Linked DNA regions of Homo sapiens. The protein of the gene in region 5 purifies or fractionates together with the protein of the main gene of each other region. This does not show direct contact. Each region holds a gene or a part of one and is shown on either strand. Other genes may lie near its edges. The genes, in order: NUP210, ADK, ETFA, DSTN, KYNU, SSU72 and PEPD.

What was found.
Region 1: the proteins of KYNU (region 5) and NUP210 fractionate together in Homo sapiens (co-fractionation; one large-scale study listed by BioGRID). This does not show direct contact.
Region 2: the proteins of KYNU (region 5) and ADK fractionate together in Homo sapiens (co-fractionation; one large-scale study listed by BioGRID). This does not show direct contact.
Region 3: the proteins of KYNU (region 5) and ETFA fractionate together in Homo sapiens (co-fractionation; one large-scale study listed by BioGRID). This does not show direct contact.
Region 4: the proteins of KYNU (region 5) and DSTN fractionate together in Homo sapiens (co-fractionation; one large-scale study listed by BioGRID). This does not show direct contact.
Region 6: the proteins of KYNU (region 5) and SSU72 fractionate together in Homo sapiens (co-fractionation; one large-scale study listed by BioGRID). This does not show direct contact.
Region 7: the proteins of KYNU (region 5) and PEPD fractionate together in Homo sapiens (co-fractionation; one large-scale study listed by BioGRID). This does not show direct contact.

What each region holds. Positions count from the first base shown.
Region 1 is NC_000003.12:13,315,735-13,319,531, forward strand, and holds the end of NUP210 (nuclear pore membrane glycoprotein 210 precursor), read right to left. Parts: intron 3,592-3,797; coding exon 3,496-3,591; intron 3,422-3,495; coding exon 3,338-3,421; intron 2,048-3,337; coding exon 1,947-2,047; 3' UTR 501-1,946; downstream 1-500. UniProt on the Homo sapiens protein: Nucleoporin essential for nuclear pore assembly and fusion, nuclear pore spacing, as well as structural integrity.
Region 2 is NC_000010.11:74,157,495-74,161,756, reverse strand, and holds part of ADK (adenosine kinase), read right to left. Parts: intron 1-4,262. UniProt on the Homo sapiens protein: Catalyzes the phosphorylation of the purine nucleoside adenosine at the 5' position in an ATP-dependent manner. Serves as a potential regulator of concentrations of extracellular adenosine and intracellular adenine nucleotides.
Region 3 is NC_000015.10:76,304,589-76,308,850, reverse strand, and holds part of ETFA (electron transfer flavoprotein subunit alpha, mitochondrial), read left to right. Parts: intron 1-4,262. UniProt on the Homo sapiens protein: Heterodimeric electron transfer flavoprotein that accepts electrons from several mitochondrial dehydrogenases, including acyl-CoA dehydrogenases, glutaryl-CoA and sarcosine dehydrogenase.
Region 4 is NC_000020.11:17,593,525-17,597,786, reverse strand, and holds part of DSTN (destrin), read right to left. Parts: intron 1-4,262. UniProt on the Homo sapiens protein: Actin-depolymerizing protein. Severs actin filaments (F-actin) and binds to actin monomers (G-actin). Acts in a pH-independent manner.
Region 5 is NC_000002.12:142,957,315-142,961,576, forward strand, and holds part of KYNU (kynureninase), read left to right. Parts: intron 1-326; coding exon 327-401; intron 402-3,309; coding exon 3,310-3,456; intron 3,457-4,262. UniProt on the Homo sapiens protein: Catalyzes the cleavage of L-kynurenine (L-Kyn) and L-3-hydroxykynurenine (L-3OHKyn) into anthranilic acid (AA) and 3-hydroxyanthranilic acid (3-OHAA), respectively. Has a preference for the L-3-hydroxy form. Also has cysteine-conjugate-beta-lyase activity.
Region 6 is NC_000001.11:1,561,111-1,565,372, forward strand, and holds part of SSU72 (RNA polymerase II subunit A C-terminal domain phosphatase SSU72), read right to left. Parts: intron 3,807-4,262; coding exon 3,663-3,806; intron 1-3,662. UniProt on the Homo sapiens protein: Protein phosphatase that catalyzes the dephosphorylation of the C-terminal domain of RNA polymerase II. Plays a role in RNA processing and termination. Plays a role in pre-mRNA polyadenylation via its interaction with SYMPK.
Region 7 is NC_000019.10:33,518,459-33,523,246, reverse strand, and holds the start of PEPD (xaa-Pro dipeptidase), read left to right. Parts: upstream 1-1,455; 5' UTR 1,456-1,486; coding exon 1,487-1,503; intron 1,504-4,788. UniProt on the Homo sapiens protein: Dipeptidase that catalyzes the hydrolysis of dipeptides with a prolyl (Xaa-Pro) or hydroxyprolyl residue in the C-terminal position.

The DNA.
Region 1 (3,797 bases), on a different chromosome or scaffold from region 5:
AAAACAAACGAAAAACAAAAACAAAACAAAACAAAACAAAAAAACATTTCCAGGATGCAGGAATGCACATGTAAGCATGCACAAAGACACACAGAGAAACAGAGAACGAGAGTTCACTTTTGGCCAGACTTAAGAATTCTAGAGAAAAAACAATCTATATGATGTACTATATTTTTAGTGCTAAATGGTGCTAAAAGCCTTTTCTGGCAACCATTAGAGACAGAGAGTTGCTTGGTTAGCTTGGGAGCAGAAAGCTGAACTGTGTGGCATCACCTGGTTTTGTCAATGTGCCTTCTTGGGCACACTCACTTGCTGGCAAGATCTGGCTGCGTCCAGATGCACTTGCATTTGCCAACCTGAATGTGCTTGAAAATGATGCTCACCCTTTGGGGAGAATAAAGCTCAGACCTCCAGCTCTGCCAGGCCCCAGAGTATCATAGATGGGTAAAGGGAAGAAATCATCACCATCAGACAGAAATCTCAGCAACGATCACACCCTCTTAAAAAATCACATAGAACTTTATTAAATAAACCAGTAGAAAGGCTCCTATTTACATCCAGGTTGTCAGTTTAAGCTCAAGTAATATGCAAGGCACAATTCTTCCTTTCTCCAGCTTTAGAAAAATCAACCACATGGCCCAGCCCTGAAGGACTGAAGGGAGCTTGTGCGGGATCCCGTCATCCTGGACTCTCCACACAGCGTCCACGCATGGATGGCCATGGGCATGAGTCTCTGGATCTCCCTGAGGGTAGCCCAGCCTCGGCCTGGAGCACAGGGGCCTGTGATCTGAGAATCTCAGATCCAGAATCAGGAGCTGGGAAGAGAGGACTTTTCCAAGGGTCTCCTCCCCCAGGCCCTGGGGAGTCCCTTCTGGATGGGCAGGCCCTGGGCTGGCGGCCGCCCTCCATCATTGGCCCAGGCCGGGCTCTAGGGCCTGCTGGGAAGCTGTCTGGGGCCCTGCGCCTGATGAGCTGCCATGAAAGTGGCCGCCTCTCACACTGGCAGGCGGTGGCTCAGATCTGCTGAGGTTCTGGAGTGGCACAGGAACAGGAGGAGCAAATGACACTGGGTCTTTGTGCTGAGGCAGGACACAGCGGCTTTCCGAAACACACACACAGAAAATATGACTCCTGCTGCCATCTCAAGGACATTTTCCTAAGGACAGTCCTGGTGTCCTGATGGAGTGAAAGGGATCACACGTGGGATGTCCCAGCAGGGCCTAAGCCAAGTCCATCAGATGTCTCAACGGCTTATGAAACAAAAACAGAGGACTGAAGTCTGTTCACAGTGGCCCATGGTTGGGCAGCAGCCCTGGGTGAGCTCCTGTGTTCTCCAGCCTCTCGCTCACCCAGGGCTTGGCTATCCTGGCCTCCAGGTGCTGGTTCCTGAGGCTTCCCTTGCGGCAGTGGCGCAGATACAGGGACACTCATGTCCCATTGCTCCTCAGAAGTCCTAGCAGCAGCCAGACTAGGGGCAAAGTAAGTTTTCACAGGGGGAAAAACCCCACCAAAAACCCCCTAAAGTAACTGGACAATCCTTTCCCTGAGACCACTACAGTAACATCACCCACAGACAACTTCTAAAGAGCACTTCTAACTGCTCAAAGTCTTGAGAAGGGAAAGATTTTAGCAAGGCTAGGAAAATAAAAATGCAACAGCACATTGTCCAGAAACCCTAGACAACCATGCAAAAAGGAATGAGCCAAAAAGTCTTAGCTTTGTAAGACTTGAAAGGAAAAAAACACACATTTAAAACTCCTACATAAAATGAGCTAATGGGCAGAGCCGAAACTACAGCTCTGTGTGAAGAGACGGCAGTGAAGCTGGCCTGGGGCCGGGGCACTCATCTGGAGGGGCTTGTTCCAGTGTGAATGCAGCAGGGATGTTCCATCTTGGGGGTGCACGAGGCTCGGCTGAGACCCATCCTCCGGGAACCTTCACGCGGCCTAGTGGGAGGCATAGGCTGGGCTCCACAGCCCTGAGGGAGGGCTGGCTTTGCGAGCAGGAGGCAATGCATTGGGAGATGTGGGTGATGAGGCAGCGAAATCTAGGGTGGGAAGAGAGACGATGTTAGCAGCAGAGCCAGGGAAAGCGGCGCACTCTTCAGTTACAGCCAGCATTCAGCAGGCGCCTGCCTCACCCAGGACACTCTCACAGTGATGCCCCGAGGCCTCCCCGGCCAGCAGAGGGAAGTCCACGGGCACCTGCTGAGCTGGCCTCATTCACACAGAGAGGCCTGGGATGCCACCCTAACACCCAGGAGCGCAGAGCCTTCCGGGGAGAACGTGTCTCAAGTTTCAGGACCACAGCAGCATCTGTCCAGGGGGCATGAGGCAGGGAGGCCCCGTGCATCTGAATGCAATGCAGCCTCGGGCAAGAGCGCCACAGGAACAAAGACCCCGAGGGGAGCAGCGATTCTGCAGTGCTCCGGAGACCTTGCAGAGATCCAGGTGTGGCTCCCAAAACCCAGGGAGGAGCACGCTGAGAGAGGCAGCTAGAAAGGGCAGGCACCTGCTGCCAGAGCAGCTGCAGAAGGCAGCAGAGCCGCGAGGAGGCCGAGCACCCGTGGCCTCCCCTGGGTGCCGCTTTGCAGGTAGAGAAGTCGTCAGGCAGAAGACAAGGGCGTGTGGGCTCTCCTTACCCAGGAAAGTGCTTCTACCCACACAACTGGGTCTTCTTTCAAAAAAATTCAGGGACCCCCCTGAAGCCGGTCCATGGGCCCCCATGTCAGCAGACACGAGCTCGAGGACTCTTTGTGTAGGGGAGAGAACCCTCAAATGGGAATCAGGAGACATTAAAGGGCCTTCACGTACAGCAGTACAGGCTGGGCACTGCATTGTTTGAGAGAGAAACTACATTCACACAGTGAGGTGCTCCCTGGAGCTGTGCAGGGTCACCAGGGCTTCGGGGTCACCAGAGAGACAGTTAGACCATTGAAATAAATGACTTTGCCCATTCTTCTGGGAAATTTCTCATCAGAACTACCCAGAATCCCCATCTGTGAGTCAGCTCGTCCAACCCCAGCTTAGAGCCTTCTGAGGCAGCCTCAGCAATTGGGCATCCAGTCCTAGCATGCACTCCTGCCTAGACAGAGCTCCTTGCTGCCCATACCTCCACCCAGCATGGCTCTACCTGGGGAAAGCTCTTGCTGAACCAGGACTGGCAGCCCCTCTGCCCCGACCCTCCTGGCTCCCACATCTGTCCTCTGGGCCTCAGGCTCCTTTGGCCCAGGCAAGGGCCTGTTGAGACTTAGGGTTCAGGAGCCTCGACCCCTCCCCCAGGGCTCTTCTCTTTCTCAGCAGCTCTGCCTGGTTGTGCCTGCAGGGGGGCTACTCACAGTGGGGGCTGTGTCCAGGGCTGGCTCGAGGCGTGAGGGCTGCAGGCACAGCAAGATCCCGGGGCGTGCAGACAGTGTGGTAGGCTGCAAGAGCACAGGGTTGGTTAGAGCAGGTCGGGGCAGGGGAACAGACCCAGAGATACAGGCAGCCTCCTCACCTATGATCATGACCGCTGTCCCAGCCAACAGGGCGAAGAGCGTGAAGAACATGACCTGGTAGGAATCCAGGAAGTGCTGGAAGAGGCTGGCTCCATCTGCCATCAATGGGAAGATGAGTTACCAAAACCACCAGGCCCACTGTGGCATCCCATCACGTTCCTGCCCTACTGTACGTCTACAGGGCAGTCCACAGGTCCCTCTTAGATGTAAGGATGGTGGTCTCAGAGGGCCAGGCCACCTGCTGGAGGCCCGGGCCCACAGCTGTTCTTGGTACCCTGGCACTTCTTCTCCTGGCGCAGGC
Region 2 (4,262 bases), on a different chromosome or scaffold from region 5:
TCCAGCCTAGGCAACACAGCAAGACCCCCTCATCTCAAAAAAAACAAAAAAAAAAAGTGTTAAGAATTCCCTGATTCTGCCAGGAATGGTTGCTCACACCTGTAATCCCAGCACTTTGGGAGGCTGAGAGGGAAGATCACTTGAGGCCAGGAGTTCAAGACAGGCATAGGCAAGACCAGCATGGGCAACATAGTGAAACCCTGTCTCTAAAAACAAAAAAAAAATTAATTAAAATTTTAAAATAAATAGGCCAGGCGCGGTGACTCATGCCTGTAATCCCAGCACTTTGGGAGGTTGAGGCAGGTAGATCACGAGATCAGGAGATCGAGACCATACTGGCTAACACAGTGAAACCCCGTCTGTACTAAAAACACACACATACACAAATTTAGCCAGGTGTGGTGGTGTGCACTTGTAGTCCCAGCTACTCGGGAGGCTGAGGCAGGAGAATTGCTTGAACCTGAGAGGTGAATGTTGCAGTGAGCCGAGATCATGCCACTGAACTCCAGTCTGGGCAGCAGAGCGAGACTTCATCTCAAAAAAATAAATAGGAATTCCTTGATTCAACAGAAATTCAGAGCCTGTTATATTGCAATGAAGTGATCAGTTATGAGGCACTAAGAGTTATTCAACTAGTTTCCCAACTTCAAGTAGCAATAGGTGAGATAAAACATGCACATACTGTACATTGCAATAACGCAAAGTATAAAGTACAAACAGTCAAAGGAGAAACCATTTCTAGGTTTGGTGAGTAGAAAAGTTTTATAGAGAAGAGAGAATTTGGCTAGACCTTGAAGACTGAGGTTGTCGGGTTTTTTGGAAGGGGAGAAGAGGAAGGTTGTTTTAATAAATATTGTACATGCTAAAATGGATTTTTCTCTTGCTGAGGGAATGACACTACCTCCCTTACTCTACAAGGTCCTGTCGGAGTTGTTGATTACAGTGTACCCATCAACACCCATCCATTTCCCCCCATATACGAACAATGCCTACACTCACTGGCTCCCCATATACCTAGTACTACCTACACACACACATACACACACACACACACACACACACACACCCCTACCTGCATGCACGCACACACCCCTACCTGCATGCACGCACACAACAGACGGGCAGACAGTGAGAATGTATCCAAGGCCAGCCCAAATCTCCACCTCTGATACAGTGATTGTAATGCAGGGCAGGTAAGCCCCAGAACTGGGGCTTAGCCCAGGACGGTGCTTGGCTTCATCCAGGAAAAAATTCAAGGGTCAGCCAGTGGTGTGTCAGCAACTTTTATTGAAGCAGCAGTGTAAAGCATCGGCAGAGGTACTGCCCCTTGCAGAGCAGGGCTACCCCATAGGCAGTATGCCCAGAGTAGCAGCTCAGAAGCAGTTCTGTGGTCATATTTATACCCAATTTTAATTATATACAAATTAAGAGGCAGATTATGCAGAAATTTCTAGGAAAAGGGTGGTAACTTCCAGGACACTGTCATGAAAAGGGACGCTAACTTCTGGGTGTTGCCGTGGCAATGGGAAACTGACATGGCACATTAGTAGGTGTGACTTACGGAAAGCTGATTCCACTCTGTCCCTGTTTTAGCTAGTCCTCAATTTGGTCCAGTGTCTGAGCCCCACCTCCTACCTCAACTGGTTCAAGGTAGTGTGTAACACAGGCAGAACCAAATTTCTCTCAAAACTGATACAAGCATATAGAAAAACTCTCTTCCTTTGGACTCATGAGATTTTGGCTTGGAGTTGAGAACTGCCATCTTGTTACACTGAAATGGCCTACGTGAGAGATAAATTGAATCTAAAGGACAACAGAGACAAGCGGTGAACTCCTAGATTGAGTCATATTTAGATGGACTTTAGGCCAGGTGCTGTGGCTCACACCTGTAATCCCAGCACGTTGGGAGGCCAAGGCAGGTGGATCACCTGAGGTCAGGCATTTGAGACCAGCCTGGCCAACATTGTGAAACCCTGTCTCTACTAAAAATACAAAAAGTAGCTGGGCATGGTGGTGCATGCCTGTAATCCCAGCTGCTCGGGAGGCTGAGGCAGGAGAGTTGCTTGAACCCAGGAGGCGGAGGTTGCAGTGAGCTGAGATCGTGCCACCGCACTCCAGCCTGGGTGACAGATCAAGACTCCATCTCAAAAAAAAAAAAATTAGATGGACTTTCCAGTTAGGTTGAGTCAACTGAGTCTTTCAGAGATTTCAAAATGGTTCTAAGTATGAACCAAAGTCTAGCCTAAGCATGTAGAAGGCAAGTAGCCAAGTGACCACTTCAATATAATTTCTGATAATCCCTAATTCAGTGAGTGACCAATGATCACACAGGCTACCTTCACATCTGCAATCCTGTTTGCAGGTAACATAGTAAAATAGCAGGACTCACTACTAACCAAATGTGGCTTGCTGACAAAATGGTTAAGACCATGTTAATACAGTAACCAAACTGTTGTGCCTACAGAAGGCAAGAATTTCTTACATAATTGCTATACATATATATCTTCTAAATTGTAAAGAAAATACTAAAGTCAGCATGCATGCAATGAAAGTAAAAATGCAAATAGAAACTCAGATGTTCTTATATCAAAGGCTAATCACATTGCTTCTAGATCTGAAGTGTATGAACCAAATTTTTAAAGAAATGGTACGAAGCCAAAAGTACAAACAACATCAGAAATAATACACATAAATGAGAGCAAAAACTCTAAATCTGCTTTGATAAATCATCAGAATGTATCTTCTTCAAGCAGTATGTGAAACTTCAGTTTGGGAGACCATTTTGTAAAACAGCCTTCCAAATCTTCAAGTCCAAAAGTTGAAGAGAAGTCTGTCTTTTCAGTTACTACTGGAGAGGAAGAAAAGCCTAATAACTCAGTGACATCAACTGTACTGGTATTACAGTAGAGCTAGCCAAAAAGTATCTTTGAAATGAGCATCTACTTAGTATCATAGAAGTGCAGAACAGTGACTAGAGAAAAAAATCTAGGAACTAACTCTGATGAGAAATTATTGTTCCTGCACAGTAGCCAACTTTTAAAAGTAAACTATAAATAAGTAATAAAAGTCCACAAACCCTTTCTTAAATCCTTGGGGCAGGGTATGTTTTGGAATTCAGAATTTTATGGATTTTAGGAAGGTAACACTGCACTATATATTTTGTAGAACACCCAGGAGGAATTCATGTGGCATGTCATTAACAGCCTAATATTTCCATAGCAAAGCATATACATTTGTGTCAGACAAATAAATACTACTGACACCTTTACATCAGTTCAAATTTTGCTGCCAAATTAATTCATCTCAAACTTTTTAAAAAACTTCCAGCTTCCAGAGCTTTGGGATTTCAGAAATATAGCTTAAAAGATTATAGCCTACAATAAAGTCATAATAATTATGTTACCAAGTTTCAGAGGTATTTGGTATCCCAGAGGTCCATTCTGTAAAGATAATATTTAGCCACACAGCACTTGGCCACTTATATATTCAGTGTACTTCAAGTCTCTCCAACTTAAAAGCAAGATTCCTAATATGTTCAGTGTAGAAACATTGGAAAATACAAGTTTTTTTTTAAACCTCATAATTCTTCCACCTAAAGATGCCCACTATTAAATTTGGAGTGTCTAAATTTTCAGTCTTTCTATAATAGATACATTAATATAATTAGCAAGAAAATCTCTGAAGTTTTAGTTTATATTTTTGTTTCCATCTTACTAGATACATATAATGCCCTTTCAAGCTGAGAACTGGTCTTTCTTAAATTTTGGTAAATTCTCAGCCATCAGCTCTTCCAACCTGGCTTCTCCACCATTCACATTATTTCCTCTTTTTGGAACTCCCAGTTAGATGTAAGTTGGTGCCTCTCAATTTATGGAGTTGCGCTGTTGCCCAGGCTGGAGTGCAATGGCACGATCTCGGCTCACCCCAACCTCCACTTCCCGGGTTCAAGAGATTCTCCTGCCTCAGCCTCCTGAGTAGCTGGGATTATAGGCATGGACCACCACATCCAGCTAATTTTGTATTTTTTTTTTTTTTTTTTTAGTAAAGATGGAGTTTCTCCATGTTGGTCAGGCTGGTCTCAAATTCCCAACCTCAGGTGATCTGCCCGCCTTGGCCTCCCAAAGTACTGGAATTACCGGCATGAGCCATCACGCCCAGCTCATATTTGTTAATTCCTATTTATTTCTCTGTGATACATCTGGGTACTTTCTTCCAATTCATTAATTTTCCCTTCAAATTTGTCTGGTCTAGAGTTCAACTGA
Region 3 (4,262 bases), on a different chromosome or scaffold from region 5:
TAATTGAGTGATATTTTAAAAGAACAAAGAGGTTCACTTTCTAACTACACTGTAATTGGCAATATCTGGAAGTTTCACCATAAAATACTGTTTTCTAATCTATGGATGTTCAATTTTGCCAGTTGTCCCATTAGTACAGTTTATAGCAATTTTCCTTATTCTGGTCTAAGATACTCTAGATGTCCTGCAAGTGGTTTTCATGTCTCTTTACTCTGTTAGAAAGGTTCCTCAGCCTTCCTTTGGGTTTGATGACATTGGTGTATTTGAAGAGTACAGGCCTTCTATTTTCCAGACTGTCACTCAATTTGGGTTTGTCTGGTGTTTCCTCATGATTAGATTCAGGTCATGTATTCTTGGTGGGAATATCACAAAAGTGGTATTGTGTTCCCCGTGCATCATATTAGCAGGTACTTAATGTTGGTTTATCCCATTAGTGGTAATGCTGACTTTAGTTACTTAGCCAAAGTGTTGTTTGCCAGGTTTCTCCACTGTCAAGTTAATACTCCTCCTTTTGTAATTTTTAACTAATTTGTGAGGCGATTCATTGAGACTATGTGACTGTCCTATTTCTCATCAGACTTTTACCCAGTCTTAGCATCTGTTGATGATTTTTGCCTGAGAAATGATTACTATGATGCAAAATGGTGATTTTCTATTTCCATGATACCTTCGTACATTTTTTAGTTATTCTACTATAAGGAAGAACATTATCTTCTTGCATATTTATGGATTTATGGATACATGGATCCTTATTTAGGATAATACATTTCTACCTTATGCTGAAGTTGTCTCATGTTTGTAAAGTGGGGCCCATTCAATCTGACTCCTGTTTGTTTACATATATATGTTTGTGATATCACAAAGTCAAAATAGCTTATCTCAAGTCCCCACTCTTGAAATTAAAAAAAAAATGTTCTGTAGCTAACCATTAATGCATTTAGGAAGAGGATACATTTCCAAAACCATATTTAAAAAAATAAAGTTAGGAATTACAGTTAAAAGATTACCATAAACTGTTAACGATGTGCATATAGTTAACACTTAACACTTAAAAATGGTTAAGATGGGGCCAACCATGGTGGCTGACACCTGTAATCCCAGCACTTTGGGAGGCTGAGGCAGATGGATCACCTGAGCTCAGGAGTTCGAGACCAGCCTGCGCAACATGGCGAAACCCCATCTCTACCAAAAAAAAAATTAGCCAGGCGCCATGGTTCACACCTGTAGTCCCAGCTACTTGGGAGGCTGAGGCACGAGACTTGCTTGAACCTGGGCATTTGAGGCTGCATTGAGCCCAGGTAGCACCACTGCCCTCCGGCCTGGGCAACAGAGTGAGACGCTGTTTCAAAAAAAAAAAAAAAGGTTAAGATGGTAAATTTTATGTATTCTTTTAAACCACTTTGTTAAACTATTAGGATATAAGTTCAATGACTTGCATTTGGTATCTAAGTTCCATTTTTAGTTCTGACTGATTTGTGCCATTGAGTAAAGTCTTTCATCCTTATGTGTGTGGCAATGGTCTTTAAAGTCATCTGTTAACAAAGATAGTTTTTATATCTATAATAAAGAGCTAGAGAACACACCAAGAGGCAAATAGGTAGGCATTTGCAGTTAGTTAATATTCTTGCAGGGATATTAATCCTAATTATTGTTATTTATTAATTTGCTCTTGAAATTGATTTATTGAAGAATAAGAAGATGCAGAAAAATATTTATGTGGTGAGTGAAACAACAATTTCAAGGTCATTTGAGTACTCTTTTTACTGTGTTTATTGTCAGGTGGGAAGGAATATCTATCAGGACTGAGAAGCTATGAAACTGGTGTGAAGGAACATGACACTTTTCTGTCTAGTATTGATGAATAAGATTGAACTCTGTAATTTGCATGCAAATTTTAATTTCTATTGAAAGAAGAAAGAGAGCCAATTTTGGTGTGATTCTAAAAGAAAATTTATTGCATAAGGTGAATTCAGTAAAATTATGATGCCTGCCAATGTGTCTACTAAGAGTCTTGTCCTTTCTTAAAGTGAAGTAAATTGACTGTGTTTTTAGTATTACAGTCAATGTCATATAACATTTCTGGTCATGATTAAAAGCTGCTATATTTTATTACTAAAAGGATTAAAGGAAGTATTTAAAGTACAGAAATATACATTTTAAAAATTACAAAATGTATGTTAAAATAGGGATAGGTGACTTTATATATTATCCTTTTGGGTATGACTCAGAAAGATTTTATAGCTTATTCTTGCTGTTTTTCTTTTTTTAATTAAGAAGCAAAAAAACCGGCTGGGTGCAGTGGCTCATGTCTGTAATCCCAGCACTTTGGGAGGCTGAGGTGGGTGGATCACGAGGTCAGGAGTTTGAGATTAGCCTGACCAACATGGTGAAACCCGTCTCTACTAAAAATACAAAAATTAGCTGGGTGTGGTGGTGCGTGCCTGTAATCCCAGCTACTTAGGAGGCTGAGGCAGGAGAATTGCTTGAACCCAGGAGGCGGAGGTTGGAGTGAGCTGAGATCGCGCCACTGCACTGCAGTCTGGGCGACTGAGCGAGACTCTGTCTCAAAAAAAAAAAAAAAAAGAAGCAAAAAAACCCTCCCCTGCCCTCTATACCCTCATTACACCTAGTTTCCAAAGATGGTTGGGGTGGAGGTATAGGTTACAATCATTCTTACTACTTTAGGTTATGAGTGGGTTTGTAAGGGTAGAGAGTTAGATTCCAGCTTTTTTTCTTCTTCTACCATCTGTGGTACTTTACTATGTGAATATACAGTTCAAGTCACAGCAAGAACTCTAAAAAACTGACAAGCAAAAACAATGTCAAAAATGAGGCTGATGCTGGGCACAGTGTCATGTGCCTGTAGTCACAGCTACTCATGTGGCTGAGGCAGGAGGATCACTTGAGTCCAGGAGACCAGCCTGAGCAACATAGCAAGCAAGACCCAGTCTCAAACAAATACCCACCCCCACAAGAAAAAAAAAAAAACAACTATTGAGGTTGAAAAAGAGAAGGACCAAAATGTGTTCATTGGACTTAGCCATAATGAAGTTTTTGGTGACTTTGGAAAGATTGGATTCAGTGTTGTGAAGGTGAAAGCCAGTTTGCATGAGTAACTGAAAAAATGGAAGGTGAGGTAATAAGAGTTGGTGTCTGTGGAAATTATTTTCAAGAAATTTAGCTTTGAAAGGGTGCAGAGAGGGTGATAACCTCTTTAAATCCTGCCCACAAGAAGTATACTATCTTATAAAGGCCAGTCAACTTTATATGGGTATGTGGCTGGCATGAGAAAGAAAACTTCATATTTTGCTATTTGCAACCAAGTCTAAACAGAGTATAGAGAACTTCTCTAAAAGCATGATGGTGTGTCTGTTTTAGTGATGTAACAGTTTATGTACTGTTTAGTTACCCTTATACATGTTTAGTTGATTACATTATCAATGAGGAAACAGTTGCTTTTTAGTTTTTGATAATTTTAAGAAAAGTTTTCATTTAGTTACTATTCATTGAGTGCCAACTGTGTGCCAGAGAGGTAGATACCAAGTTCACAGTGGAGAACAAGACAGACCTAGTCCCTGCCCTTGTGATGCAAACAGATTAAGGAAGAAACACATTATTTTAAGTGTGGTCATTGTTACAGAACATAGAGGGTGTTTGGGAGAGGTTTAATCTTGTTAGAGGACTGGAAAACACTGAAAGGATATCTGTGAAATTATGTTTGCACACTGAGGTGCCTTAAACTATTGTTACTGAGTGATAAAGTAATAGAGCGGAGGATTTTCTTTCTTTCTTTCTTTCTTTTTTTTTTTTGAGACAGAGTCTCACTGTTGCCCAGGCTGGAGTGCAGTGGCGCCATCTCGACTCACTGCAGCCTCTGCTGCCTGGGTTCACGCCATTCATCTGCCTCAGCCTCCCAAGTAGCTGGGACTACAGGTGCCCGCCACCACGCCCGGCTAATTTTTGTATTTTTAGTAGAGACGGGGTTTCACCATGTTAGCCAGGATGGTCTCGCTCTCCTGACCTTGTGATCTGCCCGCCTCGGCCTCCCAAAGTGCTGGGATTACAGGTGTGAGCCACCGCTCCTGGCCGAGGATTTTCTTTAGATAAAAACATCACTTCATTTTTTAGTTTTGTCTAAAATCATTTATCATTGCTGTATTTTTTCCCCCAATTTTTTTTTTTTTTTTTTGAAATAGAGTCTTACTCTCACCCAGGCTGGAGTGCAGTGGTGTGATCTTGACTCGCTGCAGCCTCAACCTTCT
Region 4 (4,262 bases), on a different chromosome or scaffold from region 5:
ACAGGAGTGATGCATACACAACTGTGAATATACTGAAAAACCACTGAATTGAACTGTACTTTGTGGTATGTGAATTATACCTCAATAAAGTTATTACAACAAATACCATGTGTTCGCACTTAGGAACTAAATAATGTGTACACCTGGACACAGTGTGAAATAAAAGACAATGGAGAGCCAGGGGAGGATGAGGAATTAATTAATGGGTAGAATGTATGTTATTCGGGTGATGGATACCCTAAAAGATCTGGCTTCACTGCTACCATCCATGCATGTAGCAAAATTACACTTGTACCCCCATACATTTATACAAACAAATAAAAATAAAGTTGTCACTTTAAAACACATGCAAGAATCCTGGGAGAAAGATACACTAAGATCCTAGCATTTACTTAATATTAAGGTAACTGGGCTATTTCATCATCTCATTCATTAAAGATCTCTAAATAACACACTCCAATGCCATCTACTCCACATTTTCTGTTCATAAATGAACATTCACTCTAATAAAGTGGCAGAAACAGAAAATTAGGACTAGAAAACTCATAAGTACACAATATTACCACATTCCTAATTTTAAAAAGCACTTTTCTTAAACCTTTTACTGCTTTAGGAGTAGCATATTTCTGATCTTTACAACGTATCTTATGTTAAGCAAGTTAAGAATCTCCATTTTGCAACAGATGAATAAAATGTTCAAAGCAACAAAAATTGAAGAACTAGAAACAGATCCCAATCCCTCTAACTCCCTAGTCCATAATGTTGAAGTCACATTTGACCCAACAAGCAATTTCTAAAAGCAGGAAGGCAACATCTAAAGCCTTATATTCAATCAACCAATCTTTAAATACATCAATCAATATCTAAGCATCTCAAACATTCTAAATTCTGATTTGTAAATTAAATCAATGATGTACTAGTAATCAAAAACAAAGTAAATGTGCATTCTGCAATTATAAAACAGATAAATCTCAGCCAAATCTGGCTGTAACTTACAAGCTCCTTAAAAGCCTCAGTAAGGAAGAATTTTGTCTTTTTTTCTATCAGAAGTGATGTCTGTGGAGGTTTCTTATACCATTAGACACTTGTGCTTGAGGAAATTAACACTGAATACTTGAAGGAGAAACTGGCACAGAAACTGGAAGCAGAAAACCAATTTTGACACAATTACAAATATTCAGAGAAGAAAGCTCTGAACTACAGCAGTGAGGTTAAAAACAGAAAAATTCAAGGACATGTCAAAGTCAAACCAATATAGCTGAATGAGACACAAAAGAGTGGTATCAGAGAAGCCCCAGGATTCTCTCGATTAGTGACTAGACTGCAATATATGAACAGAAAAGGAAATATGGCACAGTACGACACATCCACTCTGAAGACTGTGCAAGACATCTAGGTGGAGATGACCAGACAGTGGCAGAAATATGAGCACGGATCTCGTTGGAAGGCTTCACCTAATCCATATTTTGGACTAGCCCACACCATGGGGTCACCAACATTAAGCAGCAAAAGAAAAACCAATCTAGTTTCTCACCACTGAGTACGTAAAAATTAAAAAGAGAAACCCATCAAGGACACTAAAAAGAGGTAATCAGAAAACTAAGAAGAAAAAGAAGGAAGAAAGCAGCATCTTAGAAGCAAGGGAGAATATTTTGAGGAGGAAAGTCATCAACAGCCAATTCTGCAGTATTTCAGAGAATGAAAACAGATCGCTGGGCTTGGCAATTGGGCCTCTGAACATTTCAACAGATGGGAGAAATGGGACAGAAGTCAACCATAATGGACTGGGGACCCATGGGGAATTGAAGAGGTAAAGACAGAAAACATAAGATGGTTAACAATGAAGAAAAAAGGGAAGATTGAATGGTACTTCATGCAAGTTGTCTTATGATTGGGGAGATGTAACTGTTCTAGATATTTAAGAACTTGAAGGAATAAAGAGGAAGAGCCAAAACATTAAAAAAAAATTAAAACATACACTGAGTACTTACTATTGCTAGACACTTCTAAATCACAACAATTCTATGAGACAGCTACTATCACTATTTGCATCTTAAAGATGCATAGCAAAATTAAATAATTTGCCCAGGGTCACAGAGTAAACAATAGAGGAATTGGGATTTGAACTCTGGCAATTTGGCTCCAGAGGAGATTTTTTTTTTTTTTCCAGATGGACGTTCGCTCTTGTCATCCAGGCTGGAGTGCAATGGCACCATCTCGGCTCACTGCAACCTCTGCCTCCTGGGTTCAAGCAATTCCAGAGGAGATAATCTTAATCACTCATAAAATTAACAATATCAGAGATCTAAAGAAATGGGTAAGATCCACAGCACAGATGGGAGAGTTAGCCTAAGAAAAAGATACACATTTTTTTCTCTGAAACAGGGAGGAAGGGAAAATGACAGTTTTGAGGTGGAAGGAAGATACACTGCCAAAAATTGTGTCTGAAAGATTCTATTTTCTCTGTGAAGTATAAGGCAGGAGGAGTAGGATGGGTTTGAGGGCACTCCTCCAATCTACTACTACTAACAATTCAGAACAGCTATGACGGGGAGTTCCAAAAGGAACTACCTAAGGACAAGAAAAAGGGCTCTGGGGACCTCCAAAAGGTCAGCTGAGGTCAAGGGGTGAGGGTGGTAGGACAATGCAGTGGAAAGCAGAGGCTGATGGCAGTGTGGAAGGAAAGGACGAACTCTGCATTCTTCCTCAGAGAGTTTACCCAAGCTCAAGCTTTCAATCATCTAAGCCAAAACTTAGTTCAGACTTCTGCTCTTCTGAGCTTCTAGTCTTTACATTCAACTTCCTATCTCACATCTCCAGTTGTGTGTCTCAAAGGCATGTGATGCACAACATGTCTAAAATAAAAAACAAGCTGGTCCATTTCTAACCAGTCTTCCTTTCTCAGTAGCTATCACCACCCTCCTAGTCACATAAGGCTCCAAGCCTAAGAGATGTTCTTAGCAACTCCTCCATTATCTTACTCTTTGGATTTTCATCTTTCTCTGATACATTCATCTCATTTCACCCTCAGTCCAAGCTTCCATTGCCTCTTACTTGGACTGCAGTAACTCCTCAAGTGGCTGCAGAGGAGGGAGATTAGGATATGTATACATCATACTGTTTTCTCTTCTTGGCTGAACAGGAAAGACTGCATTCCCCAGCCTTCCTGGCAAGCTGAGTTGGCTGTATGACTGAGTTCTGAACAGCCATTTGAGTTCTGAACAGCCAAGCTGGGCCCAGTTATGTAAACTACTTCCAGTCCTGGCCCTTTAAAAGTGATCTTTAAATACACTAAATACAGCTTTTTAGATGTGAATCCTACCACAATAAAATGATTTTTAAAACATCAAAAATTAAATAAAAGTTAAATAAAAGTGATCTTAAAGCTCTGTTTTCTCCCACCAAGATGACCTTGGTAAGCATACTTCATGATAGGAGAAGGCTGCCCAACCCTTCTGGACTCTGCGTGACAGAGACAAATCTTTACTGTGTTAAGTCACTGAGATTTTGAATTTAATTTGTTATTGCAGTTCTAATACAACAAGACTGCCCATACCAACTGCCCATCACCTTTACCCTCCAATTCATCCTCTACATAAACATGAATCTGATCACCATACTTAGAACAGTCCAGTGGCTTTCCATTGATCTGAAGGTAAAAAATAGCTATTTATTTATTTATTTATTTATTTATTTATTTATTTTTGAGATACGGTGTCACTTCGTCACCCAGGCTGGACTGCAGTGGCATGATCATAGCAAACTGCAGCCTCGCACTCCTGGGCTCAAGTGATCCTCCCACCTCAGCTTCCTGAGTACTGGGACTATAAGCACGTGCCACCATGCCCAGCTAATTTTTAAAATTTTTTTTGTAGAGACAAGGTCCCACTATGTTGTCCAAGCTGGTCTCAAACTTCTGGCCTCAAGCTATTGTCCTGCCTTGGCCTCCCAAAGTGCTGAGACTACAGGTATGAGCCACCACCCCCAGCCCAATAATGGGCTCCATTTGGCTATACCTACCTCTTTAGCCTTATCTTATAGACCACACACTGCAATTTCACTACCCTGGCTTTCTTTCAGTCATTTGTACTTGCCATACTCTGGCCCACTTCAGGGCCTTTGCTCATACTATACACCCTGCCTAGATAGCACTTCCCTACAGTTCTTTGGCTAATACTCTTTAGATGTCAGATCAATTCTCACTACGCAGAAAAGTCTTCTGCATCAAAACCAGTATCACATGCTCCCATAAGATCATGTAT
Region 5 (4,262 bases):
ACAAGTCCCTACTATTCATTTTGCTTATTTTGCAAATTCTGGTTTTGACTTAGATTAGATGATTTAATTTCTTATTCTAAAATCTCTTATAATTCCTTAAGTCAAGGAGATCCCTCTGTTTTCATCTATCTCAAAGAATGTTCAGAATTCTATATGTGAATTTTATTAAGTGGTTCTTCTCTGTTGTGTATTTTGTTTAGGTGTTTTAACCTTCACCTTGGATTTAATATAATAATATGCCCTTATTTTTACTTTATTATTTGTTATTTCAATGTACTTCTGTGCTCTCAGCTTGATTTGATAAATACATCATCTTTCCTTTTTAGTATGCTATTGAGTCACAACTACAACTTCACGGACTTAACATTGAAGAAAGTATGCGGATGATAAAGCCAAGAGAGGTATATGAGAAAGAAAGAAATATTTGTCATGCTTTGTTTAGTATTGATTTTTTTCTTCATTTTCCTCAAAAGTTTATTAAAATCTTCATTACTTTAATGGAACTTTCAAGAAAGCATGAAGGACCTATACTTCTGTTACTATTAGATCATTTTGCTTAAAATAGAGAATAACTCAGATGTGTATTTATTTTCATTTTTCAAGGGCTAGCCATATGGCAAGCAAACTATTTTTCTGTTAATACCACTGGATTCTGCCATATTCTTCAATGGGATGGGAAAAGGGTGACAAATTTAGTATATCATTTTCAATTCCAAATGTCATGCCCATGGGTGCCATTAAAATCATGCTAAAGACCAGAATTATTTGTTAAAATGGAATCGTGACTATATTTCATGTCCCCTCTTACTCTAAGTATCAAACATTTTCTTTGTGTTTAGACTAGGATAGTGGAGAAAGGGATGTGGTATAATGGGAAGAGCTTTGGCTTTACAGTCTGGCTAATATTTCCAGTGAAATCTCAGACTCTCCAGTTTACTGGGTATGTGACTTTGGGAAAGTTACTTTATTCTCTGAGACTCCTTTATATTTAAACAGATAACAAAAGCATGTGTCTAATCAGGCTTGACCTAAGATCTAAATGTGTACTTTACATTAATAGAGATAAAAGGCTCACAGACTTTGACATTTAAACCCTGCAGCTTGTGTAATTTGTCACTAGTCGAATCATACAGAATAAATTTTAGGTTTCACATAAGATGCTCCCAGACCGCTAGTCATTGTTTGGACAATTACTTCTTTCAACCCAGAATTACTTTGAATAAATTAAAGATGTACTCTATTCACTTCCATTTGCCAACATACAATAAATTAATGGAATAAAAAGTTCTCACATGAGAGGATATAAATTGAGAGGATATAAATTGTTAATTTCTAGCAAAAATGAACATAGCTGCTAATAATCACATAAGTGACCAATATTGTGGAGTTTCATGAGTTACTCATAATCTTGGGACCACTGTTGAGCATTACCTAGAACAAGTCAACATGAGAGAGGGCCGTATCCTGTCGTTGAAAAATGTATTTCTTATGTGCTTAATACTGATTTTTTAAGATATAAATTAAGTATTAGTATCTATAATATTTTCCTTACCACTTTATTGGAAATTATGGTGGGTAAACCTTATTAGATTGTTTTAAGAATAAAGAGTTTTGGATTGCCAAGTTATCAATTTTACTTACAATTAATGACATTCTTTTCTTTATATAAAGTATACTTCACTTAATAATTCAGATATTTTAATAACAATCCCATTAATATTGGGATGCCAATTTTTATTGATGCCCATTTTGTAAACAAATTCCTGGTTTCTTCTAGTAGAGAGTTTATTTCACACCCACACACATACACACTCACACACACACACACGTACTCTCTTAACATGGAGCAGAGTAATTGGCAAATACCAAGATAATTAAAAATTAAAAGTAAACTATAGGATAATATCTTAATGAGCTTCCCCCAAATATTAACGTAATTAATGATGCATTGACCTCAAAATCATGTCAGACAGCACTGGAGAAAATTCATGGCTGGGTGCAGTGGCTCACGCCTGTAATCCCAGCACTTTGAGAGTTTGAGACAGGCAGATCACGTGAGGCCGGGAGTTCAAGACCAGCCTGACCAACATGGAGAAACCCCATCTCTATTAAAAATACAAAATTAGCCAGATGTGGTGGCACATGCCTGTAATCCCAGCTACTCAGGAGGCTGAGGCAGGAGAATCACTTGAACCTGGGAGGTGGAGGTTGTGGTGAGCCAAGATCGCACCATTGCACTCCAGCCTGGGCAACAAGAGTGAAGCTCCGTCTCAAAAAAAAAAAAAAATTATGAAAACTTCAGAATTGCTAGGATACAGGATACACATAGGTACTTTGTATTTAACTAATTTTTTTCAGCTCAAGTTGTTTGCAAGACCAAATCTAAATTCATTCACAACCTTTAGTAAGTAATCAATTATTAGTTGTAGTGGCAAGATATAAGGAAAAAACCCTCTATTATAGTCAGTTTTATTGATATTTTTCTTCTTGTTTGGGTCTTGAGCTTTAGATTAGTTTGGAGGAGATTTTAATCTTAATCTAATAGAAGATATTGGCTAGGTAAAACTCAGATAAAAGATGTGTAAGTGTTATGTTTTCTTTGGTTTAGTTTAATTTAGTTTAGTTTTTTTCTGAGACAGAGTTGCTCTGTCACCCAGGCTGGAGTGCAGTGGCACTATTCTCGTGCTTCCGCCACCCAAGTAGCTGGGATTACGGGCATGCACCACCACACCTAGCTAATTTTTGTATTTTTAATAAAGACTGAGTTTCACCATGTTGGCCAAGCTGGTCTCAAACTCCTTACCTCAAGTGATCTGCCCACCTTGGCATCCCAAAGTGCCAGGATTACAGGCGTGAGCCACACACCCGGCATGTTTTCTTTTTTTGGAAACAATAACAGGATATCAGATTGATAAATGCAATACCAATTTCTGATAATTTATCTTGCTATATAATACTTCATGGACTTCTTGCACTTTGTGGTGTTTTATTAGTCAGGAATAAGGAGAAAACAACTTATAGCTGTGGAAAGAGTACAAATTAATTTTTAAAAACTGGAGAATAAATCAAGCAATTCGGCTTTTGAAGACTTTCACTTGAAAAAACACTTTTTACTTTTTAATTATCATTTCTTAATAATAAAAATTATGCTCAAATGCTGCTCTTATGCCAGATTTTTAAAGAACCTTAATCTGAAAAAAAAAACTATTTTATAATGCAAAAGGGCTCACGGTGAAATTTAGATCGGCAATATGAAATTACAAATTTATTATTATCGATATGACCTAACTTGTGCCTAACTTGATTTAGGGGGAAGAAACCTTAAGAATAGAGGATATCCTTGAAGTAATTGAGAAGGAAGGAGACTCAATTGCAGTGATCCTGTTCAGTGGGGTGCATTTTTACACTGGACAGCACTTTAATATTCCTGCCATCACAAAAGCTGGACAAGCGAAGGTATGCACGCCATTTACTTCTTCCCACCTTACTCCAAACATCACTCTACTTAAGAGTGTTCTAATTGCATGACTTGTGAAGTACTTTAGCTTGTGTCTGAGTAAAACTATTTCAAAAGTTAAAAAAAAAAAGAGTAAACCTTGGGCCAGGCACGGTGGCTCACGCCTGTAATCCCAGCACTTGGGAGGCTGGAGCAGGGGGATCACGAGGTCAGGAGTTTGAGACCAGCCTGACAAAAATGGCGAAACCCCATCTCTACTGAAAATACAAAAATTAGCTGGGCATGGTGGTGGGCACCTGTAATCCCAGCTATTCGGGAGGCTGAGGCAGAAGAGTCACTTGAACTCGGGCGGTGGAGATTGCAGTGAGCCAAGATCGTGCCCCTGCACTCCAGCCTGGGCAACAGAGCAAGACTCCATCTCAAAAAAAAAAAAGCGAGTAAATCTTACATTTTTAAAAGAAAATCTGTAATCTTTTTTGCTTCAGGCATCTCTATTTAAACTGCTTTTTTTTTTTTTTTTTTTTTTTTGCCACTTCTGTGGTCTCACCTCCTTAGTAGCAGCTGCTCTGTGCATTTGCCTCTAGTCAGCAGGCCAGGCAAGCTGTAGGTGATGCCATTGGTACTCAGCTGGTCAGTCACCAGGAAGCAGACAAAATACTTAAGATAGGAAGTACATGCTAGGTCTATTAAAAATTCAACTCATACTTTGTCATACTATAAATCACTCTATAAATGAGTTTTCACTTAATGCTGAGTATCTAAAGATGAAGAAATGCAGAATTCAATTTTATCAGTAGATCAAATT
Region 6 (4,262 bases), on a different chromosome or scaffold from region 5:
GTCTCACTCTGTCACCCAGGCTGGAGTGCCGTAGCGCGATCTCGGCTCACTGCAGGCTCTGCCTCCCAGGTTCAAGCAACTCTCCTGCCTCAGCCTCCCAAGTAGCTGGGACTACAGGCGTGCACCACCATGCCCGGCTAATTTTTGTATTTTTAGTAGAAATGGGGTTTCACTATGTTGGCCAGGCTGGTCTCTAACTTCTGACCTCATGATCCACCCACCTCGGCCTCCCAAAGTGCTGGGATTACAGGCCTGAGTCACCGCGCCGGCCCGTCCTTTGTCTTGACGCTGTGAACACTCGACCAAGTGCTGCGTCTTATCTTTGGGCCGCATCTTGAACCCCGTCTTGCTTCCACTGCAGTTTACGGCGATGACTTCTGCCAACGCACCGGCTGCTGTGGGGCAGATTTGCTTTCGGGCTCTCACTTGTAACAGTCACTTCCCGCGGCCCCCCTGCACCCATCACTAACCAGGAAACGTTATCGGGGTCCTCCCGACCTGCACATCTCAACACCCCTGAGGCCCCACCCGGCATCGTGCCAGTGTCCACAGGGAACTGCCTGGGGACTTCACTCCTCTCCAGGCCAAGGGCATCATGTGCAAGAGCTTTAGCTAAGTGGCAGGCTTCCCATTCTGCACCTTCTGCCCCCACCTAGGGGGCAAAGACGCCCCCCGAGTGAAATAAGGTAATGAAGGCACGCTCCTCCTAGAGCCTCCTGAGGGGCCACCACAGGCAATGCCTTTCCCACACGAGGTCCCCAAAGCAGAGCCCGTGGCTGACAGTGTCCCAGCGCCACCCCTGCTGCCACTCCTTCCCCCCACCACACACCAAGAGCACACACACGCACGCGGGGTTCTTCTGGGCCGATGCTTCCTGGGAGATCACCAACCCCTACAGTCCCTCTGTAAAGGAGGAGCTTCCGAATTCTGGGACACTGGGCTCAGCTCCTTCTTTTAGAATGACCAGAGACAGGCTCATCCTCTGCCTATACCAAGTCCTTCCGGATGAGACTGCTGAAGCTGGACTCAGTCCTTGCAGAACGTGGCAAGTACTTCCCAGGTCTGGAACCCAGGAGGTCACAGTGGGCTGACATGAAGGGGCTGAGCTTACACCAATCAAGGGAGTGTGAGGATGTGCGTCACTCTCTGCTTTTCTTTCTCTTACTGAATATACAAGAACTTAAAAATAAACAGTGCTAACTGAAGAGTAATTGTCAAAAACAGGATGTCAGGCTAAGCTTCATGGCACAGAGTTTAATGTGAATCATGAGATGAGACAAAAGCCTCCTCCAGGGCGATGGGAAGACCCAGCCCCAAACCAGACTCTTGAGCACGCAGCCCTAAACCAGACTCCGGGAAGGGGCTGCGTGGTCATGCACCGCCTAAGACTCAGAGGTGAAGATGGGAAGACCCAGCCCTAAACCAGACTCCTGGAAGGGGCTGCGTGGTCACGCATCGCCTAAGACTCAGAGGTGAAGATGGGAAGACCCAGCCCTAAACCAGACTCTTGGAATAGGCTCTGTGGCCACCCATCGCCGTAAGGCTCCGGGATGGAGACAGCATGGACAGGGACCTCGCACAAAGGCATGTCGGGAGGGCCTCCTTTCCAAGGCACAGCCCCACCTGCTCCTTCTCAGCCCACGACGGGAGCAGAGCCATGTCGAAGCCGTGCCCCACACAGGGTGGACAAGGACATGGCCTGACAGCTCCTCAGAAATCCTTAGAGATTTTTCCAAACGCAGGTTACCAGGGCTTCTGCAGAGAGAGGGGCAGCAGGACGTGCTGCTGACAGTCCCTGGGGACTTACACTGACTTGCAGTGAGAGCCCACATCTGCCACCAGGATGGCTCCCAGCACCACCGCGTCACAAGCACCACACTCTCCACCGTGGGACGCCCAGATGGCTCGGCAGGCAGGCCGGGCTGGGGAGCTGACAGCAGACGCCTGGGACTCTGCCCAGCGTCCTCACCCACAACCTTTTAACTGTAACTGGCAGAGGAGACAGCAGGGAGGGCAGAAGGTACAGTGATGGCTAGGATGCAGTTCTAGGTTTTGCCAGACATACTTTCAGGGGCCACTCCTGGCTACCTAATTAATCTACCTGTGTATAAGAATTTTTTAGCTTATTAAATATTCCAAGAGGCCAGGCATGGTGGCTCACGCCTGTAATCCCAACACTCTGAGAGGCCGAGGCAGCTGGATCACGAGGTCAAGAGTTCAAGACCAGTTTGGTCAAGATGGTGAAACCCCCGTCTCTACTAAAAATACAAAAATTAGCCAGGCATGACAGCGGATGCCTGTAATCCCAGCTATTCGGGAGGCTGAGGCAGAGAATCGCTTGAACTTGGGAGGGGGAGGTTGCAGTGAGCTGAGATCAAGCCGCTACACTCCACCTTGGGCAACAGGGTGAGACTCTGACTCCATCTCAAAAAAAAAAAAAAAAAAAAATACAAGAGTAGGGCTGAGCATGGTGGCTCACGCCTGTAATCCCAGCACTTTGGGAGGACGAGGAGGGTGGATCACCTGAAGTCAGGAGTTTAAGACCAGCCTGGCCAACATGGTGAAACCCTGTGACTACTAAAAATACAAAAATTAGCCAGGTGTGGTGGCGCGTGCCTGTAATCCCAGCTACCCAGGAGGCTGAAGCAGGAGAATCACTGGAACCCGGGAGGTGGATGTTGCAGTGAGTCTGCAGTGAGCCAAGATCTCGCCACTGCACTCCAGCCGGGGTGACACAGTGAGACTCTGCTGGGAAAGGGCGGGGATGGCAAGAGTGCCAATACATAGACAATGCTGGGCAAGGCCAGAGATGCTGGTCAAGGGCGGGGATGTCGGGAGAGGGCGGGGATGGCAACAGTGCCAACACGAAGATAAAAGGTTTAGCATTTGACACCTATTCTCTTTTCATTTGGAATACGTTTGGCCTGGCCTCCGTTCTGAAAACTACAAATCACTCACTATAACAAAATAAGATCCAGAAACTTTCCATTAGCGTGGGGGTGACCATGAAATGCCTGGTCAAAAACCCGGGCACTGATTGTCATAACCATTATGCAACTGGTGTTGCGTCCATCAGAATCTAGTTTAAGAATACTCTTCTCTCTATAGGAGTCTTCGCGGCAGACCTAGCCTGCTCTGTGTCCTCCTGAAATGAAGGAATGTTCTCTCCCATTATTTCTTCTAACAGCTTGGTTAGCAAGCTCCGCCCTCTTCTTTATCTGACCTTCTAACGACCTCACCAGATGTGTGAAGCAGCCCGGCTCCATGTGTATCAGGCACGCACGCACACACGCACGCACACCAACCTGCAAAGGAAATAACGGGGCAGCCCTGCAGTGTGAAAAGCAATGGGATTTTGTGGGTTCCACCTCCTCACCTAAGCATCCCTGGTCTACGCTATGTCACGACCCTCTGCTGAACCACGTCAGGGTGAACCCCACACCGTGTCTGTGCGCCTCACCACGCCTACTGCCATGGGTGGCACTGGAACTAACCCGTGGACGATCCGACGTGCACCAGGAATAGAAACCAAGCTCTCGCAAAGACAGAGGAGCCAGTGTGTGCACTGCACAGGGTGACACGCCTCCTGTGCCCGAGCCACACGTAACACCTTCCAGGGAGGACCACACGGGGGGTTTTTAAAGGGCAACCCGCTGGGATACAGTTCTTTGTCTTTCCTAAGAAGATCATTGTACATCTGGTCATATGTGGTTTTGAAATCATAAACATTGGGCTTGTCGGGAGCTGGTCCTGGAAGCTTCACGTGAGTCCCTGTTCCAAAGGATCGGACGCTGAATCCCCGTTTGCTGAAAGACAAAAGGAGAGAAAGAATCACAGTCACACTAAGACACAAAATTCCAAAAGCAAGGGACAGCAAATGGGATAGAAACAAAATGAGTAATTTCATTGGCTCATAGTAGAGAATATGTCTTCAAATTTTTAATCTAGGCCGGGCATGGTGGCTCGCGCCTGTAATCCCAGCACTTTGGGAGGCCAAGGCAGGCGGATCATGAAGGCAGGCGGATCATGAAGGCAGGCGGATCATGAAGGCAGGAGATCAAGACCATCCTGGCTAACACGGTGAAAACCCGTCTCTACTAAAAATACAAAAAATTAGCCGGGCGCGGTGGCGGGCACCTGTAGTCCCAGCTACTCGGGAGGCTGAGGCAGGAGAATGGCGTGAACCCGGGAGGCGGAGCTTGCAGTGAGCAGAGATAGCACCACTGCACTCCAGCCTGGGCGACAGGCTGTAGCAAGTTACA
Region 7 (4,788 bases), on a different chromosome or scaffold from region 5:
CTCTAGCAGCCCTGTGAGGTGGCCCCATTAGCTCTCTCCTGACAGATGAGGACAGCAGGGATGGTACTGGGCTTCCAGGTAACTGTGCCACGTGCCCTTCACTACCCTGCTTATGGCTGGCTCCCTTGCTCCTATTTAAGGGGCCTATTCTCCTCCCTGCTTCATGGGGACAAACAGAAGCTGCTTCTCCAGTCATAGCCCCTGGCTCCCACCAGCCTGGCCATGGTGACCCACATCCTTGTTTCGATAAAGAAACAAGAAGCATCCCCCAACCCACAACCTTTGATCAGAAGCCACTTCCAGCTGTGGGACAGCTGCAGGGTGGGGTCAGGAGCCCCACACGCCTATCCTGGGCCACCCATCCACCTGTCCACACACATCTGTACACCACACACATCTGTACACCCTTGGCGCCAGGGACGCCCTCCCCCAACAGTGTGGGGCCCCCTTCCTTCACAGGGGCAGTGAGGTCACTCCTCAGGGTATGGCTTCATGAGCTCAGCCTCTGTGTGAGCACTCTCTGGCCTCAGTTTCCTCATCTGTATAATAGACTTAAAGATAGTCTCGACCTCATAGGGCTGTGGTGAGGTTTCTATGAGCTCACATGTGCAACGCATTTGGGCCGTGCTTGTAATGCCCTGACTCTGTTGGCAGTAGGGAGGGCAGCGTCTGCTGCAGGGTCCCTACACCTTCTCTGCAGGACTCTGCACCCAGTACCAGTGCCCAGTGGGGCAGAGGAGTAAGCCTTCTGGCAGACTCTCCCTCCTAAACCCTTCTCGGCTGTGCCCACTTCTCGCCTGCCCTCCTCCCTGGCTTCCCTTCCTCCAGCTTCTCCATTCTGCAGCCCAGGAAACCTAGAAAAGATCCTACCAGACTTAACTCATAGGCCCCACAGTGGAGGCCCCGCAGGGTCTGGCCCTTGCTTCCCTTAGGCTGCCCCTCTCTCGCGCACATTCTCCTGGACGCTGCACATTTAGAGTCCTCCAGTTGCCCCACGGCCTTTGCTCAAGCCCTTTCCCTTCTTAAACAAAAATCGCCACCTCTGCCCCGACCCTAGCCTGGGTCAGTCTCCCTCCTCTCCTCCCACGTGGTTTCTTTATTCCTATGTGTTCTTCTCCCGGGTGGGCTGGTACGCCAGATCGGGGACTGAACCAGAATCAAGATGTCCTCTGCTTCAGGACCTCCCTCCCACCACGAAAAGGCTGCAGATGCTGCCCGCTAACCCGACCTACTGTCTGCAGCCGGCAGCCCGCTCATTTATCCTGGCCGAGCTCTTGGGCCCCCAATCTCCGGGAGCCCCGCCCCATCGGGGCTCCGCCCTTCCCCAGGTACCGCCCCTTCCCGTCCCGTGGAATTTGGCTCTGGAGGAGGTGGGTCAAGGACTCCATGCCCCGCCCCCTGCCCCGCCCTTACCCCGCCCCATGCATTGGCACCCGGAGGGGCTCAGCTGACGCCGCACTTCACGTGACGCCGGTGCCGGGCGAACATGGCGGCGGCCACCGGGTGAGTGCTGCGCCTCCCTCGCTCTTTCCCGCTGGCGTGGAGAGGGGCATGGGTGTCCCGGCCGGACCGCGGGTGAGAGCGTCAGCCGGGGTCGCTGAATGCCGCGGGTAGGCGCCTCTTCCCGTTGGCCCGGAGTCCCAGCGCCGGTCGGCGAGCTGCACGCTCCGAGTCAGGGTCAGCGCGGGGGCCGCAGCTCCTCTCCACCCTCCTGGCTGGCTCCGGCCCCACCTGCCCGCGTCTGGCGGCCCCACCGTGTGCGGCTGCGGTGGGGGCTGGGGTCGACACGCATGTTCGCTGCCAAGACCCCCGGGTAGGAGGGCGGCGTTGCGAGGACCCCAGGGACCCGGGCGCTTCCCGGAGGAGGCGGTATTCGAGACGGACTTGGAATTCCCTTTTCCCAGCAGGGCACTTCCCCATTTCTTTCAGGGGCCAAATGTCACCCCCTCAGGGAATCCTTCTCTAACCATCTATCCCACTTTTTGTGCCCTCATCATCACCTGATAAACTATATAGAGCATTGTTTGTACTTGTTCTTTATCTTCTCTGCATTTAGAGTGCAAGGGCAGGTATGTTACCTGCTTCTCAGTAGCCCGGTGCCTTGCACACAGTAGGTGCTCCATACTGGGCTAAATGAAAGAAAGCTGAGTGGTCGTAGTGGGAGGAAGGGTGGACAGATGGGTTCACCAGAGCGTTGGGCGGAATCTCCCAGATAGGGAGCATCTGAGCCCAGGGTAAGGGACAAAGGTTGAGAGTTCAGAGTGTTCTGGGGACAGGGGTGCATGCCTGGGGCTGGTTGGAAGGTGTGGTGTTCCAGGTGGCGGCTTCAGACTTTGCCCTGATGGGCTGGAAGGGTTTTGTTACAAGCTGCTTGATCTGTTTTTTAAAGATTAGGCTCCCCTGAGCTATGTGTGAGTTCAATGGGAGAAGGTGTGGGTCTGGTGGTACAGTGGGGTAGAGGGGGCATGGTGTAGGAGGGAGCAGTATTCCAGATGCCAGGTTGGAAACTGAGGTCAGAATGGGGGATCTAGTGGACTGAATGCATCTCTCTTTTTAAGATACAGGGAAAATGGCAACAGAAAGTGGGTTCTAAGTTGGCCCCCAAGGTTGAGGGAGCTTAGAGCATACAAATCAAATATTTTGTGGGCACCTGCTATATTCCAGGAATAGCAGTGGGTCTTCCCTTAAGGTACTCACAGGCCACTGGAACAGATGGACACATGGGACTCTGTCATCCATCTGCTTGCCGTGTGGTCTTGCCATTTGCAAAGGAGGGGCATGGACTCTGAGCTCAGATAAAGTGTGGGAAGGCTTCACTTCCTGGGTGACTTTTGTGCTAGTCCTTCAGCAATGAGACTCCCTTCAGGTAGAGAACAGTGCAGACAAAGTCTCAGATGGGTGTCAAGGAACTCAGGGTCAGATCCTTGAATCCAGCCTGTGACCCTTTTAAAGGGTAGACTGAGCAGGCTGGTGCCCAGCTGTGGGTGTGCTGTCTCTCTGGTTAGGCTGGCTCGGTGCTCACAGGGAGTGCCAGGGGTTGCATTTGGGTTCAGGATTCCAAGCTGGCCTGAGACCTGCTGCTCTCCTGAAGGAACCAAGCTGATGTCTGGACGGGAGCAAGTCTGGAACTGACTGGATCCTGGAATGAGAGCTTTTCTTTTTCTCTTTCTTTTTTTTTTTTTGAGACGTAGTTTTGCTCTTGTTGCCCAGTCTGGAGTGCAATGGCATGATGGCTCACTGCAACCTCCACCTCCCAGGTTCAAGCGAGTCTTCTGCCTCAGCCTCCTGAGTAGCTGGAATTACAGGCGTGTGCCACCACACTCAGCTAATTTTTTGTATTTTTAGTGGAGATGGGGTTTCACCATGTTGGCCAGACTGGTCTCGAACTCCTGACCTCAGGTGATCCACCCGCCTCCGCCTCCCAAAGTGCTAGGATTACAGGTGTGAGCCACCACGCCTGGCCCCAGAATGAGAGCTTTTCTAGCAGAACCGATTCTCTGGGCCACCACACAGGGTGGGTGAGGGAGGCAAAACAGAGTGGCAGGTCTTAGAGAGGTCTGCTATTGAGAGGGTGTGGGAGCTTCCAGAGCCTGGCAGTCTCCTTGGGAAGAGCCATCCCAGTCTGGTATGGGGCTTTCCCATGTACTTTGAGCCTGAGGTTGACCCCAGTGGCTTCCTTTAGAGCAGAATGATTAAGTGTGTTTCCCGCAAAGCTCAGCTCCTAGCCACACTCACAGAACAGATCATAGAGTCAGGCATAACGAGGCATGATGCCAGCAAGTCACGGCCATTGCCGTGGGCTCACTGGGAGTTGGGTTTGGTTGTCTGTAGAATCCTACCAGAGCCTGGGACAGAGGGGGTCCATGAGAGTTCCAGGTGACTGGGGTGTGCCCCATATGATTTGGGGAGTAGGGGAAGCCCTAAACTAGCATCTCAGATTTAATTTGAAACTCAAGAATCTACTCTGAATGCATCTCTCTTTTTAAGATGTGGGGTGTTTCAGGGTTGATCCTACTTTCTCTTGCTAGCCTGGGTGTAGGCTTCAGGTTGAGACAGAGTGCGCTGAGGTCACCTCCCATCCCCTCATGGAGAGGGGTCCCTATCCCATGGCACTTGGTGGCACTGCTGCTGTCTCCTTAAGCAATGCTTTGAGCTTTCCACAGACAGGATTGATAATTTGAAATCTGTCAGCTCCAGCCAGACCTGTCTGCATCTGCTCTCCCACATGGCTTTTTCCATTCCCTTCTTCCCTTGCACACTCACCCAACTAGCCCTGGAATGTTCTTGTCCTCTATATGATTCTTCACGTATTTGCAGGCCCAGCTCAGATGGTTCCCTTTCCCAGAAGCCTTTCCCAGCCCTCGGGTAAAGGTTTAGTGCTCAGAACTCCAGAACACTCAGTTTTCTCCCCAGCAGTACACTTTTACACGTCTGCCCATTGTGGGTTAGGAGTTGCTTCCCTTCATGCCTCTCCTAGCATCCTTAGAACCCCTGGGGTTCTTTTGTATCCGCAGGGCCAGTCTGTGGCTGCCCTGTGATTGGTGCTTGGTGAAATGAATGAAAAGGGGATTTACTCTAAATTAGTCCAGCATCCCATCCTGCTTTCCTGGGAGACTCCCAGTGATTGAGGGAAGGAGTCATGGTGGGGAATGGGGACAGAATTCCGAGGGGTAGGATGAAGAAATAGCCTTAATTCTTTAACTGAGTGGCTCCCAGGAGCTGTTGCAGAGCCAAAAAGAGGCAAAGGTGAACTGCCCTGGACGTGTACCCCTGTTGAGCCGTAGGTTA